Linked DNA regions of Homo sapiens: regions 1, 2 and 3 are each linked to region 4. Evidence: fine-mapped expression QTL. A gene starts in region 4. Each other region holds a variant in brackets. All regions are shown on one strand. Distances are from middle to middle. Region 1 has its middle 35 kb from the start of PELI2. Region 2 overlaps PELI2 (pellino E3 ubiquitin protein ligase family member 2). Region 3 overlaps LINC02284 (long intergenic non-protein coding RNA 2284). Region 4 holds the start of PELI2 (pellino E3 ubiquitin protein ligase family member 2).

The links. PIP is the estimated chance that this variant, and not a neighbour inherited with it, causes the effect.
Region 1: its variant is the best candidate, but not a certain one, in a credible set for the expression of PELI2 in blood mononuclear cells (TOPMed, PIP 0.51).
Region 2: its variant is the best candidate, but not a certain one, in a credible set for the expression of PELI2 in whole blood (INTERVAL, PIP 0.51).
Region 3: its variant is the best candidate, but not a certain one, in a credible set for the expression of PELI2 in esophagus muscle (GTEx, PIP 0.62).

Annotation. Positions count from the first base shown.
Region 1 is chr14:56,081,551-56,085,714 of GRCh38, reverse strand. No RefSeq gene overlaps it. Among named protein-coding and RNA genes, the nearest start is that of PELI2, 35 kb to the left of the region's middle. The variant C/T (reference allele first, on the strand shown) is at 1,791.
Region 2 is chr14:56,294,651-56,298,814 of GRCh38, reverse strand. PELI2 (pellino E3 ubiquitin protein ligase family member 2) reads right to left here. Exons shown (of 6, transcript NM_021255.3): 6 at 1-2,215. The coding sequence ends at 1,649. Among named protein-coding and RNA genes, the nearest start is that of LINC02284, 14 kb to the left of the region's middle. RefSeq lists an enhancer at 1,467-1,966. The variant C/T (reference allele first, on the strand shown) is at 1,647.
Region 3 is chr14:56,324,420-56,328,583 of GRCh38, reverse strand. LINC02284 (long intergenic non-protein coding RNA 2284) reads right to left here. Exons shown (of 7, transcript NR_187174.1): 3 at 2,359-2,404; 4 at 223-401. Among named protein-coding and RNA genes, the nearest start is that of LINC02284, 16 kb to the right of the region's middle. The variant T/C (reference allele first, on the strand shown) is at 1,918.
Region 4 is chr14:56,115,998-56,120,161 of GRCh38, reverse strand. It overlaps PELI2 (pellino E3 ubiquitin protein ligase family member 2), which reads right to left and starts at 1,751. Exons shown (of 6, transcript NM_021255.3): 1 at 1,425-1,751. The coding sequence starts at 1,501. RefSeq lists silencers at 1,274-1,343, 1,634-1,893, 1,934-1,993 and an enhancer at 2,124-2,363.

The DNA of each region.
Region 1 (4,164 bases), 34 kb after region 4:
TAAGGAAGTGAGGGATCTTGTCATAAGAATACCCGGCAGAGGGAGCAATCCAGAGGGACCAGCAAGTGCAAAGACGCTGGGGCAGAAGCACACCTCAGTTGTTTGAAGAACAGGAAAGAGGCCAGTGTGGTTACATTGGCATAATTGAGGGGAAAGCAGTAGGAAACGGGGTCAAGGGATAAGAGGGCATCATCATGTAGACTTGACTTTTATTCTGGATGAGATGGGAATCCTTGGAAGGTTTTGAGCAGAGGAGTCTCATGATTGAACTTTATGTTTTTTAACAGAATAGCCCTGGCTGCTAGGTTGAGAAGAAACCTCAGAGGGCAAGGATAGAAGCAGAGAGACTAGAGACTGCCACAGCAGTGAGAGATGATGAAGAGTTGAAACAGAATGGTAGCAAGAGGGTGATGTGAAGAATGTGAAGGACATATATATATATATTTTATATACTTTATTTATAATTTATAAATATATATAATTTATATATTATATAATATATAATTTAAAAATATATATATAATTTATTATATATATAAAAAAACTAGTAACTAAGATGGAGTAACTAAGGAAGTGAGGGATCTTGCCATAAGAATACCTGGCAGAGGAGCAATCCAGAGGGAACAGCAAGTGCAAAGACCCTGGTGTCTCTTCCCCTAGGAATGACAGATAGATAGATAGATAGATAGATAGATAGATAGATAGATATAGATATATATATATATATGATCCAACAGTATTTGCCTACAGATCATATATAGGGAGTGTGAGAGAGGAAAGAGTCAAGGATGCCCTCAGGATCTTTGGGCTGAAACAACTGGAAGAATGGAGTAGCCAACAACCGGAGACTGCAGGCAAAGATAGTTTCAAGAAGAATGCGAGGATCTCGGTTTCAGACATGTTAAGTTTGAGACATCAATTAGATATCCAATTGGAGAGTCAAGTGGGTAGATGGTTGTGAGTTTAATGGAGAGGTCCAGAGTGAAGATACAATTTTGGGAGTCATCAGCACAGAGGTGGTGTTAAAGTTGTAAGACTGGAAATGTTTGCCAAGACAGTAAATGCAATTACAAAAGCGAAGTATCAAGAGATGAGCCCTGGGCAAGTCCAACATTTAGAGTTTGGAGGGATGAGGAAGACACTGCCAGTGAGGTTGGGGGAACACCGGGAGAAACTGGGAGGCAAGAGAGAAAAGTGTTTCAAGGCATAAAGCATCCAACTTTGCCAAATGCTGCCCATAGGTCAATTAAGAGGAGGTCTGAGAAGTTACATTAGAGTTAGCAGTGTTCTTGACCATTGGTGACCTTGAGTAGTGTGAGTGGAGAGGTGGGGGTCCCAAACTGGGTTCACGAGAGAGAGAAAGAGAGAGAAGCAACTGGAGGTTGCAAGAACAGATGTTTCCTTCAAGGGGTTTTCTTCTTAAAGACAGGAGGAAATGGGATATAACTGGAAGAGGAAGTAGGGAGAGAAGAGAATTATTTTTAGGAAAGAACAGCATGTTTATAAGTTGATAGGACTGCCACTGTAGAGAAGAACTTGAAGGTGCAGGGTTGGGGATGGAGGCGGCAGGGAATTGCTGGAGCAAATGTCCTTGGGTACAATGGACAGTGGAACCAGCACCCAGGTGGAGACTTTGGCTGAGGGCAGGAGCAAGGCTAGGTCATCACAGTGATAGGGGAAGGTAGAGGCTAGGCCAGCAGCAGGTAGGCTGGCAGATGCAAGGTAGAAACCTCATGACAGTTCTTCTCTCATCACTTCCATTTTCTTGCTGAAGTAGTGTGCTTTTCATG[C/T]AAAGAGGTTGCTTTCAACATTTTTACAAAGCTAAGGAATGTCAATGTTGAGAATTTTGTGACTAGGAAACCTAATGAGTTGTGCAGCTATTGTTAGTTTTGTGCCTAACTTATCATACTTTTCAGAATAGATGGCTCTGCTATCCTAGGACTGGGCTTGTCTTTCTAGAAACAAATTCCTGACACCCAGATTAGACAGTTCTGAGGAAGTCTCACATACCCAATTCTGTCATTCCTAGGGGAAGAGACATAAACCTTCCATTATCTTGATTTCGTTGAGTGCCTGCCTTTTTTCTCTTTCTCAAGGTTCCCCCTCCCTGTCATATCTCTTTTCAGACATTCAGGAGAGCATGCTCTGGAAGCAGTCGCAGCAAACAGTAGACCGAAGGAAACCCCAGGGAAACTTCAGGGAGGTCCTGTATCTTACTGGTTTTTCCAGATTTACATTGAGATTGTCCCTGATAATTCCTTTCTCTACTTTCATGACTTTAAAAAACTCATCCTTAAATCTTTAAGAGAGATGTTTATAGAATCATGATGGATATAACAAATACACTCTTTTCCACAATTTAGAATTTGAAATTTTCGAAGTGTTCAGGCAGGTAGGGAAAGAAGAAGGGGAATTTATTATGTCATCCAATTCTGACAGTTCTATGAGGTAGGTATGATTATCTAGATCTTATAGATCAGATTCAGAGAGATTAAGTAACTTGCCCATATAGTAAGTAGGGGTCCCAGACTTGAACTCTGGACTCTCAGAGCCCAGCACTGTGCTATTTTCATTGTACTTTGCTCTATGATCATTTAGGAAAGGCAAATACTACGTCGGTAATTTATGAAGGAATTTCCTGCCCTGTCCATAGCCTAGCTCTCTAGATAACTCAGAAACTCCTACCTCAGACCCTTGATCTGTGGGGTTGTTCTGCAAAGAACCTTTTGATATACCATGGGCATTCCAGATCCAGAACACTGCTTTCTGCCAAGGTGACTTTTAATTTATCAGAGCTCTCTTTGGTATACACATGTCCAAACCATTGGTCTACTATTTTATTGCAAAAATCAGTAAGGAAGGAAGTTTAGGCACACAACTAGAGTGTGAATGTGAAGCTGCTTTTTTTTTTTTTTTTTTTTTTTTTTTTGGTCTTTGGGATTGCTTGCTTTCAAAACAAGCTTCCATTTCCCCCCACCTCCATAGCAGCATTGTTTTCTTGCTCTTCATTCTGTGTCTCAAATATACTTCTTAGGCATTCCAAGTGGACATTTACGACTTTTTACAGATCAGCTTTTCCAAGTACATGATCTAAAGTGGCACTCCTCTACTTTCAGAGCTCCTAGCTCCTTTCATTAGCAATCTTTAGTGAGAAGAGGGAGGCCATCCTAGGTAAACTTCCTCAACTCCTCTACCCTTTGCATCAGATTTGCTTCATGTTTATTCCACCCTCCTTCCTCTGATCTCAGAGGCAGGAAGCTGTGTCCCTTATCTTTCCAAGATAACCTTTCTGTGTGTGTCCACGATGCCACTTCCTCCCATGTCTTTAATGGGAACCTCTTCTCACATGTTCAAGCTCATATTTAGCCTCATGCCTCAAATTTTAAAAAATGCCTGCTATCCATTAAGCCACTGCTGCATTTCTTAAGTTTCACTGTGTCAAACTTTTTGGACGAGATGCTAAAACTCAATACCTTTATGTCTTTTTATGGCAATCTAGCCTAATTATTCTATTGAAATCTCTCACTTTGGATGCCTTCCTTTGGGAATTTTTCATCCCTTAGCCTCCCTGTCACTGAACCCTTAGTTCTCTTCCAATCTTTGATGGTTTTCTCTAAGCACCTGCATTGAACTTTTCCTCTTCTCTTCCTCGAATCTAGTCAGTCTCCCAGCTTCTGCCTCTCCCTTTTCCTTTCCCCACTGTGTTCCTCTCTTTCTCCCATTTTTCTTTGCACTAATAGTTAATATTATAGTTAATTAAGCTGAAATTTCACAGGCTGCTCTCCTAATGTGATCATTTAAATCCAGGCCAGATGCTAACCAAACCCTACTTAAACAAGGCCTTCTCCACTCTTAAGATTCACCCTAGAATGTTCCATGGACAGTTTTAGAATATTTATTTCTGAAAACTGACATACAAACATTTTCCACAACAGGAAAGAAAGCATCAGCTTTCTATTTGCAGCACAAGAAAACACCACTGGGATGAAGCCTCAAAAACACATTTGGGTGACGGCAGATCACGAGACACTTGGAGTCAAGATATCAGGTTTCAATCAAAAATATATAGACTGGATATGAATAAACTCCCCTGAAATCTCACTCTCTTCCACTGACTGGGGTTTCAGATGGGGAGATCAGTAACACTTGCAGATGACTCCGGAG
Region 2 (4,164 bases), 180 kb before region 4:
ATGATCTCCACTGAAAAATAAAGCTATATTAAAACTGAGAGGCTGAACTTTAAACATATTACATCAAATTAAGCAGCAGCAATCAAGAGTAATATTATCGTATCACTTTAAGGAAAAGCGTATTCAAATAGGTTAGAACGACTGAAAATAGGCAAAATATTTGCCAGTAGGCAAAATACGAAAAAACCAATTCAAGTATGGATATAGTACATTAGAATCATATAAATTACGTATATGTACAAAGGTTAAAAAAAAGTCACCCAAATCTGCAATGGTCAAATTAAGAGAACATTAGTTTAAATAAATACTTATTTTATCTCAGCCAGCTTCTACCAGTCTCATGTCCTAAAGGATCTTTACCTTCTAGGAGCAGTGATACGATCGATGCCAAGCATCCAAGAATTATTAATCAAAATGAAATGAAAGTAACAGGAATGGTGGAGCTCCTATGAAATTCTCATTTAATTATTCCTCAGCAACACTCATTTGCTCTCTCAAAAGCAGGAATTTTGAATTATCTCTGCAGATGTACCACTTGGTGTTGTGTATATCTAATCATCCCACTTAAATTTAGTTTGATTCGCAAACATTTTCAAAACTTACTGGGCTCCTTAAGCTGCAAGGGAAGGTGACAGATGGTGAAAAGGGAGTGCACAACAATGACTATATCATTGTGATTGGTTGGCTTTCTTAACAAAGGAAAAAAAAAAACCCCAAGCTTTATGAAACCTCAAGTGGTTTTAAAAAGTAAAAGCTTATTTTTAATCATTCTTAAATCTTAATTCAGTCAGCAAATAAACATGGTAGTATAGTACCCAGACCATGTCTACTACTGTAATTACCCTCAGTTAATGAGTTTTTAAGAGCTGATGTATTTTAATCAACCAAACAGTTCTGGCCGTGCAAGATGAGTATCGGGGCAAATCATATTAGGCAGAAATAACAAAAGACAGGCTAAAAAGTTATGGAAAATTGTTTGTGAAGTCCCATGTATTTGATGAATGAATATCTAAAGTAAATTCCACTGAAGTTAAAAAAAAAAAAAGCCCACAAGTTATGAATATTCTCTCCCCCAACAAGTCAGAAAAATAAATCAGAAAAAGCCCCAGATTTCAAAACCACCTGTGCCTAAGGCCATCTGTCCACCAGTCACACTGTACAGAGCCGCCCCTCTGCTGTCTGGTCAGGTTTGAGCCACGATCAAGTATTTCTAGACACTGTGCGCCCTTCGCGTAACACCTACACCACACTGCACTGAAGTGAACTTCATGAGCCCACACTTTTGAATAAATTTCTTCTACATCTGTAAAATATGATTTAAAGTCTTGTCCAAGATTACAAAAAAAAAAAAACTTGGTTAAAAACCCAAGGTTAAAAATAGAAGCATAGCATTTTAAATCCAATTATTACAAAGATATTATGGTTTAATCAAGCAGACTTCAATGACGACGCTGCTGTTTTGAGCATGCAACACACCACTGGTATCTGTTACACTCCTGCCATGTTTCATCACCATGTCCCCTCTCTTTATTTCCAGCCCCTGTCACCCTCCTCTGATAAACAGCATTACAAAAAGGTAAAATCTAGAGTTAGTGGCAAAATCTTCACAGTAACCTGTTAATAAAGTCGTAGATGGCTGTCAAGGG[C/T]GTCAGTCAATTGGACCTTGGAAAATTAATTTGATGCAGTTTTGCTCCCCAACCAGCTGTGTAGCACAGAAAGGGCAAGCAGCGTGAAATGCATGAGTTCCATGAGGCAACGGGATCTGAGACCAGTATTTTGCAGACTTCTCCGAGCACACGTGTCCACAGGGAGTGAAAGCATGAGTTGGCGGTCCTGCGTCTACATAAAATCCTGCCTCACAGCCAAGCCAGAGAGGCACATAGGGGCCCACAGTCCTGCACATGGGACACTCCCTCTCGTTGGCCTCCGTGTCACTCCGATGGCCCCAGTTGTGGTACCCGTGCACGTGGCCACAACTGAGATATGCCCAGGGCTGCTTCTCCTCCACCACCTCTTTCCTGTTGATGCTGGGGAAGGCCAGGGTGTTGAGCCCCACAGGACACTGAGGCCGGGCGGCGTTAATCTCCTGCCGGAGGGCTTCTATGTGCTTCTGAGTTGGAGTATGAAAAAGCCCATCTGCTGTTCTCCAGAGGAGAGTGGCCCCACACAGGTCAATGAGGGAGCCGTCCTGCAGGACGTTGGTCTCACTTTCCACCTACAACAAGTTTGAGACACATGCCTTTTAAAAGCAAAATCAAGCAAATCACTCCAAGATTCTTTCCTCTCAGAACAAGCAAAAAAATATTTGAAGATAACACAGGGAAGCAATTTATCCCACAAAAACAGAACTGGGGGAGTAACCTATCCTCCCCGAGCCTCATCTTCCTCATCTGATCACTGGATATGATACATATATGCCGTATGTACAAAGCCCTGAGCACAGTATGTATACCTAGCTTTACATGTTCAATTACTGTAGTGGTTATTTTAATGAACTTCACAAATCTCCTAAGATTTTCTTTTTAACTCCTTAAGTCAGTAACACAATGACTCACTGATCCCATAGGATGAGAGATGTCCTACCAGTCCATCCAGTGGAGACTCATCCTCATCTTGATGACAGCCAATCCAGAAGATCTTGCGGGGGGCCTGCAGTCATTACTGGAGGGTCCAAAGCACTCCTGGTGACCCTTAGCTTCCTCCACCTTGAATCTATCTTTCATCATTCATTTTTAAGGTTTGAAGCTAAACAGTTCAACATGAGCCTTCATTTTTAGAAGGAGGCCTGTGCTATGCACTAAGTGCTTATAAGACTGATTAACAGCTGACAAGCAGCAGCTAGGCGTGGTCAGCAAGAACGTGACCGCTGCCTCCACATGCCAGATGCATGCTAAGCCTTGGAGGTACCAAAGGCCAATAAAACCTCTTCCCCATCCTGCTGAGACTTGCTCTTCAGTAGTGGAAGGCAGACATGCCCAGAGCTCAGAGTGCATGAAGGCCAGTAAAGCACTGTTCAAGGCCACAAATTTATAGCAGCCAGGAGTGTGGACTCTGGGTTTGAACCCTGGCTCTCCCACTTATTAGCTGTATGACGCTGTGCAGATTACTTAAACTCCTCGTGCCTCAGTTTCCCCTTGTTTAAACTTTAGAAAAGGTGGTTGTGTTAGATAAGTAAATGCAAAGAGTTCTTAGAGAACACTGTCTGGTACGCAGTCAACACTCTGTAAATACCTGCTACTATTACTCTGATGATGACAGACGGTCAGAAATGGTTTCTAAAAGGTTTTTCTTTAACAGAGATTTGAGAAAGATGTCAGGCCTCAGTAGGGAGGATAGCAGGAAGGCACAGCAGGGAGAAGGAGGAGAGGCCAAATGGCATATGCACCAAGGGAGCAACAGGGAGTTTGATGAGGCTGTGCAGCCAGGCTGAACAAGGATGGACGCAGTTCAGGGCACTGGGTGGGGGGGGACGAGAGACCCAGGCGGGAGAGGGAGGCTGGCATCCATGCCCAGAGGGAGTTGGTAGGGGGTTTAGGTAACTATAAAAGAACTGATTGACCTTTCAAAAAGGTCACTTCTAGAACTTTGGAGGGTGGGTTGGAGGGGTAAAGATGAGCTGTGAAGGAGGCAACTGGTGCTCTCTCTGGGTAGAGAGGGTGAGTACACCTCAACAAAGACAGTCTCAGTGGCAAGAGACAGAGGCACAGGGACTAGAGAGAAAGAAATTAGACTCGATGGCACTCAGCTCTTGATCTGAGCAAGAGCCTCTTACGTGCCTGGTTGTCTGGGTAGAACAGTGCTTTCCACAGACAGAAACACAGGAGAAATGGCAGATGAGGGAGTAAATCCTGATTTCACCACTTAGTAGCTCTGTGGTCTTGAGTCAACGACTTAACCTCTCTGGGCCTGGCTTCCACATCCATTAAGCTGGAATAATGCCAATACATGTCTTATAGGATTGTTGTGAGAACTAAATAAGTTCAACAGCAAGAGCCAGGCCAGTTCAGTTTTGGGTGTGCTGAATGTGAGGGTGTGCAGAGTATCGGTGGTGGTAATGCATACAAGGCACGTGTGATGCAGCGTTGGAGACAGATCAGGCTCGAAGAAACATATCTGGGATGTTATCCGCACCTAGGTGAAGCTGTGGGAATGGATGCCACTGCC
Region 3 (4,164 bases), 210 kb before region 4:
TTCATGGACAGGTGACAGGGCCACATGCTCAGAAGGGTCCTGTGCTTGGGGAAATGCTCTGCTATTACCATCTTGAAATGCTTAATAATTTTATCTTAGAACTTCTGGTTTGCAAGTAAAGTCTGCTGGGACAACACAGCACACAGTGAGCAGGTAAGATAAACATAATATGCACATCTGCTATCTTAGCCATCCCATTTGCTACCTCCGTAACATACTTACCTTCTACTTGCTTTTACTCTTGCTGGACTCCCATCACTGTGGCTTCACTGGAATTCGATGATCATGTTCTGTATCAACATGTCTGCAATTGAGTAGGTAGGGGTACTGACAGCCCCGGGTGGCTATACTTTCCATTCCAGTCATAACTTGCTTGGACACAGAAAGAAGGCAGTGGTATTCTAAGAAACACAAATGATCAAGGAAGCTTTTCACAGCCTTTCTTACTCATGTTACACCTTTGTGTTAGTCAAACACTTATTCTGAAAATGATGGAAGGGAAAGATAAGGCAACCCATGGTTCTTTTATTTCCTTAGGTCCTTCCTTAATCACAATGAGTAGCAATGTAGAGAGTGTTAGCAGAATGTGCACATATCAAGAAATGAAATAAAAATTGTTGAATTAGTTGTGTGCAGTATTTCCCTGCTTGGTAAGAATGAAATACTGTGCATTTATGAGCTACAAACTATGAATTACTTTATTTCACAGATTCACATAGGAATTAAGTTCCCTTATATATGCCAACCACAACCCTGGCTCCAAGTGTGGGAATGATAGCACCAGGGGTAATTTCATCCCACTTGCTGGTGATTGGTCCAGGACAGGCATGCCACTCAATCAGACCAATGAGAAGCTGCTAGGGACTCCTGAGAAAGTTCTGACTTCTGCTTCCAGAACCGACTCTCTTTATTCCATCTTTCTACAAAGTGAGGATGAAGTCAACATGCAGAGGAGGGTAGAGTCACAAATTCATTGACAAAAAAAAACAACTTTTTAAAAGAATTTGCACGGCTGGGTGCAGTGGCTCACGCCTGTAATCCCAGCACTTTGGGAGGCCGAGACGTGTGGATCACAAGGTCAGGAGATCGAGACCATCCTGGCTATCACGGTGAAACCCCGTCTCTACTAAAAATACAAAAAATTAGCTGGGCTTGGTGGCGGGCGCCTGTAGTCCCAGCTACTCGGGAGGCTGAGGCAGGAGAATGGCGTGAACCCGGGAGGCGGAGCTTGCAGTGAGCGGAGATGGTGCCACTGCACTCCAGCCTGGGCAACAGAGTGAGATTCCGTCTCAAAGAAAAATAAAAATTAAAAAAAAAAAAGAATTTGCCGAAAAATAGAACTAAAGCTTCCAGTCTAAGCAACCTAAACACTGGTCTCCTGCTGTGACTTCCAGGAATGCGAACCAACTATTCCATTGTTACTAAATCCAGTTTATGATGGATTTTCTGTAACTTGATGCTGAAAGCACATTGATAAATGTTTGTTGACTGAGTGGATGAATGTGTACAGCATTATAATCCCTGGCATTGGACTGGCCATGACAAACTTTATGGCTCTTAAAGGAGGAGTCAATCTGACAGCTGAAGAACAAGGAAGAAGGCAGTGCAGGAAGGAAGGGGCACCCTGGTGTGCGCAGGGGTGAGAGGCTGACAAACATTAGGGGTCAGAAAGGAACATGGTCTGGAGATGCAAATGATTCATGCAGGGAGAGCAGGGACCATGGAGTGGCTGCCCTGGATTTTCAAGGGTCTGGGATTTTCTCAAGGTCGCCGGCGTGGTTAGTTGTAGGGGAACCCTATGCTATGTGTAGAAGTACTTGGAGCGGGCCGGGCGCGCTGGCTCACGCCTGTAATCCCAGCATTTTGGGAGGCTGAGGCAGGCTGATCACGCAGTCAGGAGATCGAGATCATCCTGGC[T/C]AACACGGTGAAACCCCGTCTCTACTAAAAATACAAAAAAATTAGCAGGGCATTGTGGCGGGCGCCTCTAGTCCCAGCTACTCGGGAGGCTGAGGCAGGAGAATGGCGTGAACCAGGGAGGTGGAGTTTGCAGTGAGCTGAGATCGCGCCACTGCACTCCAGCCTGGGCGACAGAGCGAGACTCCGTCTCAAAAAAAAAAAAAAAAAAAAAAAAAAAGGGCTTGGAGTAGTGAAGAGATCTGCAGCCGCACAGCCATGATAAGATCTTAGGAACTACCTCCTTATTTATATAAAGGTGCTTTACTGAAATATTAATAGCTCAGTTTGGGTTTGAAACCGAGCTGTGCCTCTCACTAATGGTGTAACCTAAGCAAGTTACTTTATCGTTCTGTGTCTTGGTTCCCTCAAAAGGAAAATGAAGAAGATATGAGCAGTACTTACCACCTCCTTTTCCATGAGGATAGTGAGGTCATCCAGCGTTTGGCACCTGGCAGGAGTTGCGTGGATGTTGGTTATTGTTATGTCTTTTGATTGCCTTACATGGTTCCTTGCAGGGGGAGAATTTTTTTTTTTTTTTTTTTTTTTTTTTTTTTTTTTTTTGGGAGTCCACCATTCCTACACCCTTCCCTCATCTTTTAATGTCTGGAGACTGCTGTCTGCAATTGTAAACCACTCTTTCACCTTCCTGATGCCCACATTACATGTAGCTTATTTTTGCCTTACTGATATTCAAGCTGAAGGAGGATGATGAAGAAGCTCTTGGGACCAAATTCAACACCAGCCAGTCAGCCTCCCTGACTATCCCCAACAGAGACTGGAGTGGCTCGATTCTACAGCTTAGAGTTTGTAGAGGAAAAGCTAAAATCCACACAAGAAATATTTCTGTGGCCGATTTCAGCTGATTTATAAGATTTTTTTCAAGTAAATAAAGCATATTTTCACCATTTTCAACATATCGTAGTATACTGTCCATCTTGGTGATCTGTTTCCCCAGGCCATATTTGGCAACATTTGGTATTACCTCCCACAGACTCTTGCACTTCCTTGGCCACAGGAATCAGATACGACCCTGTTAGGGACAGCACGTTTTCTTTAGTTTATTCATTCATATTCATTTAATGCTTATTGCATGCCAAGTACCATTTGGTGAGCTGCCTTACACAGTTATCTGCATTTTATATATTATGTGTGATATAACGGATGATCTTACACATATGTACTTCTGCATTTCAAATAGCTCAAAGTAAACTACAGAGGGAATATGCAACTTAAACCACAAACTACTCTTTAAAAACTTTGCTTCAAAACTCCAACCAAGAATTGGATAGTTTGTAATTGCACTGATTTCTGGCTCCTGGATTAGTCTAATCTTTCTGAAGTGGATATAGAAATATAATTCCATTCAGCACATCGTTATCACCAATATTTACAGCTTGCCTTTAAAAAGTAAACAAATTGGAGAAACTAGAAAAATTCTCAACCACCAAGTCCCCAAATTTCCATGAATCTTTATATTAATGTGATAAAAGATATAAAAGTTCTTGGCTGTGGTTTAATACTAGAAGATGATTCAGATGTAGAACATCTGACAAAGATTTTAAAAATTCTTTTTTAATGAATATGCAGACGAAGCAAGCTCAGTGTAGAATAACAAAATCACATATGTTGTCAATTATTGGAAACACACAGCACAAACAGCCAATAAACACAGGTAGAACCCCTCAGTGTTGTTGGTAAGATTATGGGGGTGGGGAGAGATTGCTTACAGCTGTTATGTTAATTAAGGAATAAAATAGCTCCATCTGCTACTCCATCTCTCCGTCGAGCTACCCACCCTTTTTGCTGCTTGGTTCTAAGTTGACACTGAACTAGGGAGCTGACACCTAAGTCCCTGGCCTCAGTTGGTTTCCATGTTGAATAGAACTTGGAGAGGAAGGTATGGCAGGCTGAGTCACAGACTCTCATCTGAACACATCTCCATCACTCTTAGGCCTGAGATGGGGGTGGGTGGCATGGCAGGCTTGCCTTGTCCCATGCAGATGTAGCTGTGGTTATGGGTAAAAATCTGTGGAGTCATCTTGCTTTATTTTTCCACATAATTTGCATGTAGCACTAACCCCATTAGTACACAGTGTAGCCACCAATAGTCAGCTTTGGTTGCAAGATCCTAGGAGAGTGAAGTTTGGGATTTTTTCCAGTGTCTTTCTTAGGGCCCAAATCAGAGACACTTTCTGCTAACTGCTGAGA
Region 4 (4,164 bases):
TGATATTTGTCTTTGAAGTGCAATTAAGATGTAGGTGAGAAAAACACTTATCTGCAAACAGCTTCAAAATAGGTAATGAGATTTCCAATACCACCCCCACTTAATGCACTAGCAACAAAGTCAGGAAGACTGGGAAGCTTTGAGTTGTGCGGTGTCTGGAAGCTTCCCTCAAAAACTCCTCTCTTTAAATTATTTTTAAGTCAGCACTTACTTCAAGGCACTCACTTATCAAAACACGTTTTGCAAAGTTCCCTGAGTCTTCCCACAGCCATGACTCCTCATATGTGTGCTAAGCCTACCTATCAGCGCCGAGGATGTTCTGAATACAGGTCTTTCAACGCAGAAGGACAAAAGCGCGGGTTCCCAGAGCGACACATCCAAAGGAAAAAATAATCCTTTCTTCAACACTAAACCCAAGTTGTTCCTTCCCCCCAGTTTCCTGCACTTCCCCCTTCCCCCTCCCCTTTCACTGCCCACTATATCCAGTTTTAAGCCCGCAAAGCCTCTCTCCTGGCTTATTAAGGGTAAACAATAGAAATGTCACAAGGAAACTCAGGAAGTAGATGAAGTCTCTAATTGCTGCCGTTTAACGATTGTACATAATTACTATCTTCAAGATGCGGCTTTCACCAGCAGAGAGGGAGCCGAGGCGGGCGAGGCTGGCGAGCTCCCCGCAGCCGGGAGGGCATCAGCGAGGCCGGGACCGGGGGGATACGGCCCGCGCCCCGGTGCCAGGCCCCGAGCAGCCGCATCCTGTCCCTCCCCTCCAGAGCACTCCAAGCGGGGAGAAGCGGAGGGCCGGCCGGCCCGGGTCACACACAGTTCACTGCTCTCGGGCTGCGGCGGCCCGCGGCGGTCATCGGAACAATTTGCAAAGCGCAGCCGGGGATCCCACAGCCCGCGGCGGCCCAAGCTCACGGCGCCGCGCTCGGAGTTCGGGGGCGCGGGTACCACGGTCCGCGAGGGAGGTGGGAAGACGGGGCTCCGCGCCGGCCGGCCTCTCAGCTTCGGGAAGCGACCCCGCGAAGCGCCCGCGACCGCGGCGCCTCACATGGAGTCCCTGCCCGCCCTCCCCGGCCCGGACGCGGCGCGCGGGAAGTGGAGCCCCTGCCCCCGCCCCCACGATACGGCCGCGGACCCGGTGCCCGGCGCTGCCCCCGCTGGGTCGCCCGAGTTCTGGCCACTTCCTCCGCCGCGTCCTCCGCGCGGACAGCGCAGCCCGGCGTCCGCCGCAGCACCCCGAGCGCGCGCCGATGGGGCGCATCCCGCCCCCGCGCCGCCGTCCGGGCCCTGAGAGCCTCTCCTGCCGCCCCGAGCGCCCCGGCGGTCCCCAAAGAGCACCGAGCCACCCCGCCAGCCCCGCTCCAGGATGCGGGCGCTCCCCGCCCGCGCCGCTGCCCGGGACCAGGGACCCCAGGACTCACCCGAGCACCACCAGCTCCCCGTATTTCACTGGCTCCTTATTGGGGGCGCAGTGTTCCTCCTGGCCAGGGGAAAACATGGAGCCCCGCTCGGCCGCCGACGCCGCCGCCGACGCCGCCGCCTCCGCCGCGATCCCCGCCGAGTCCGCGCCGCCGCTACAATCCCATCCCGAGAACGGGGTGAGCGCGCCGGGGAAGGGCACGGCGGCGAAGGGGGCGCGGGGCGGCCAGTCCCGCTGCTGCTCCGTCGTGGCTGCGCGGCTGCTCCGCCTGACTCCCCGGAGCTCCGCGCGCCGCGGCCGCCCCGAGTCAGAGCCGGCAACAAATGGGACCCGGCAGCAGGGGGACCTGCCTGCGCTGAGCGCCGCCGCCGAAGCCCCGCGGGAGGGAGGGAAGGAGGAGGGAGCGGGCGCACGAGAGGCTGGGGCCGCGCGGGGGAGGCGGGGGCCAGCGCGCGGGCAGGTGGGAGCCGCCCCGCCCCACGCAGAGCCAGGCGCCCGCCCCCGGCCCGCGGGGCGCCCCCTCCCCCGGCGCGTGGGGCCGTCCGCGCCCACTCCCCGCCCCCCTCGGCCCGGCGGAGGCTCGGCCCCTGTGTTATGTAAACATAGAGTAAAAGGGAAAGGAAGTTCTTAAAGGAGCAGCTCTGTTTTTTTTCCTCACTTCCTTCCCCAAACTTAGAGCGCGGGGTCCTCAGCCCTCGCCGCCTGGTTCTTCAGCCGCGAAGGCCCGCGGGAGATCCTGGAAACGAGCGGCCGCGGTTCCCAAGCCCACGTTTTCCTGGCTGGAGTTCGATGGGATTAACTTCCTCTCCGAGTAGAATAGCGCTCTCTCGACGTCACTGTGTCCCGGCTTACAACTAGAGGTGTCGCACACACCCACTTGGGTGCCTCCCCTTCCAAAACCAAGCAGAAAGGCGTCTAGAAAATTAGAAGGTTTTGCCAGTTGGTGCTGGCGTAGAGGACGTTTCGAAGGCGCTTGGAGCACCCCACCGTTGCACTGGATGTAGCTACCCCGGCTTGTGGTCAATAGAGCTCCACCTGGCTTTTGGGGGGTGGCGGGGGGATGGGGGAAGAGTTGTTTTTTAATCCATACTTTATCCACTTTTCCTGTGCCTTCTTTCCATCCCCTAATACATACAAGGGGAAATTACCTGGGTGGACTTTTTAGTGAACGTAAATGTTCCTTTATGACCGTGATTTAATCAATGCACTGTTTGCTTTCTATTCTTTTTAAACTAGTTATTGCTATGGCTTTAAAATATCGTAGACTGTATAGTTTTACTGACTGCTGTTTTTCATCATACAGGATTTTATTGTTCTAACATTTATTAAGCACTCATAATGTGCTAGAAACTCTACATATTATTGCGAGTCATTGCCTCTCAACACTGTTAAATATTTAAAGAAATAAATACTGCAGAAGCTACCCTGTGTATAGTGACTGGTTGGCTATGACCCGAAGCAAAGGGCTAGAAAAAATAATAATTGCATCTGTAACCTTCCATTCCGCTGTGCTGCACCCCTTGTGTAACATTCTCTGACAGGTTATTACGGTAGTGACATGATGTTTCTGATAATTTTACTTCAGTTAGGAACTGATTTTTTTAATTGAGGTTTTAGAAATAAATTATTCCAAAGTAACTAAAGCCACACCACTGGTAAGCCAAAAATAAACTTTATTAAACAGTTAACTTATTTCAGCTAACTATAGAAATTCTGTATTTCAAATGAATATTAGTTATTCTGCATATATTACGTATTCTCTATATTTTTTATATGTAATAAAAAATCTGTTACAGTTTTAACCAGCACTCCTTCACTAAAGGGATAAATCATGTCTCCTCCCCAGTGTTGATGTAAATTTCTTTCAAATTTCTGCTGGATTAATGTTGTCTTCATGTACTCTGTGCATCTACTTACCACATAGATTGTATGACTATCAAAGATCTGTCAGAATCATTCTGCAGTTGCGCCGTCACGATTACGATGATGCCTGCCTCTGTCACCCTAGCTTCTCTAGGCCTCCTCTGTTGCTGCTTCTGCTCTCTAGGCTACCATTACCTCCTTCCTTCTCTCTTGGCCTGCTGTGCCTGTGTGCGTTGCATTGCATTATACTGTTCTGGCTGCATTTCCTCCTTGCTGTGCTTCGCATCTGCTCTTAGGAAGATAGAAAGAAATATGTATTAACCTCCTACTAAGTTCCCAGCACTAGGCTGAGAGTTTCCCATAGGATATCCCAATCTTCCAAGGCCCCCCCGTCTAGCTATCTGCCTGTGGCACCCCTGACTTCCAGAGGGACATGTCTCTCTACTCTCCCAACATGTCTTTGAGAATGTTTATAGTACTTAATCAGGTCTGTCTTTATCAGACTGACTTACAGGAAGTGTTGTTGTGAATGAGTTTTTGTGTCAATGGAGGCTTTTTATCCTAGGCAGCTCAAGGCTAGATCAGCTCTGTGAATCACTCTGAGCCCTGAAAGCTTCTGACTGGTAAGAGCAATTCTATTGATCACAGTCAAGAATACATACAGGGACCAGGCATGGAAATCCAAATGAGCAAATGGGCTGAGTGAGGACTGTGGCACATTGGTAGGGTCTGTGCCGTCTACAGGGCTTATCTGTCACTCATCTCTAGCTGATTGTTGCCATGTGACAATGACAGTTCACTCTTGCTAGATGTAATTTTTCTAAAAGCCTCAAATCCTGATTACACCAAACCTCTCAATTTTTAACTGTTGGCAACTC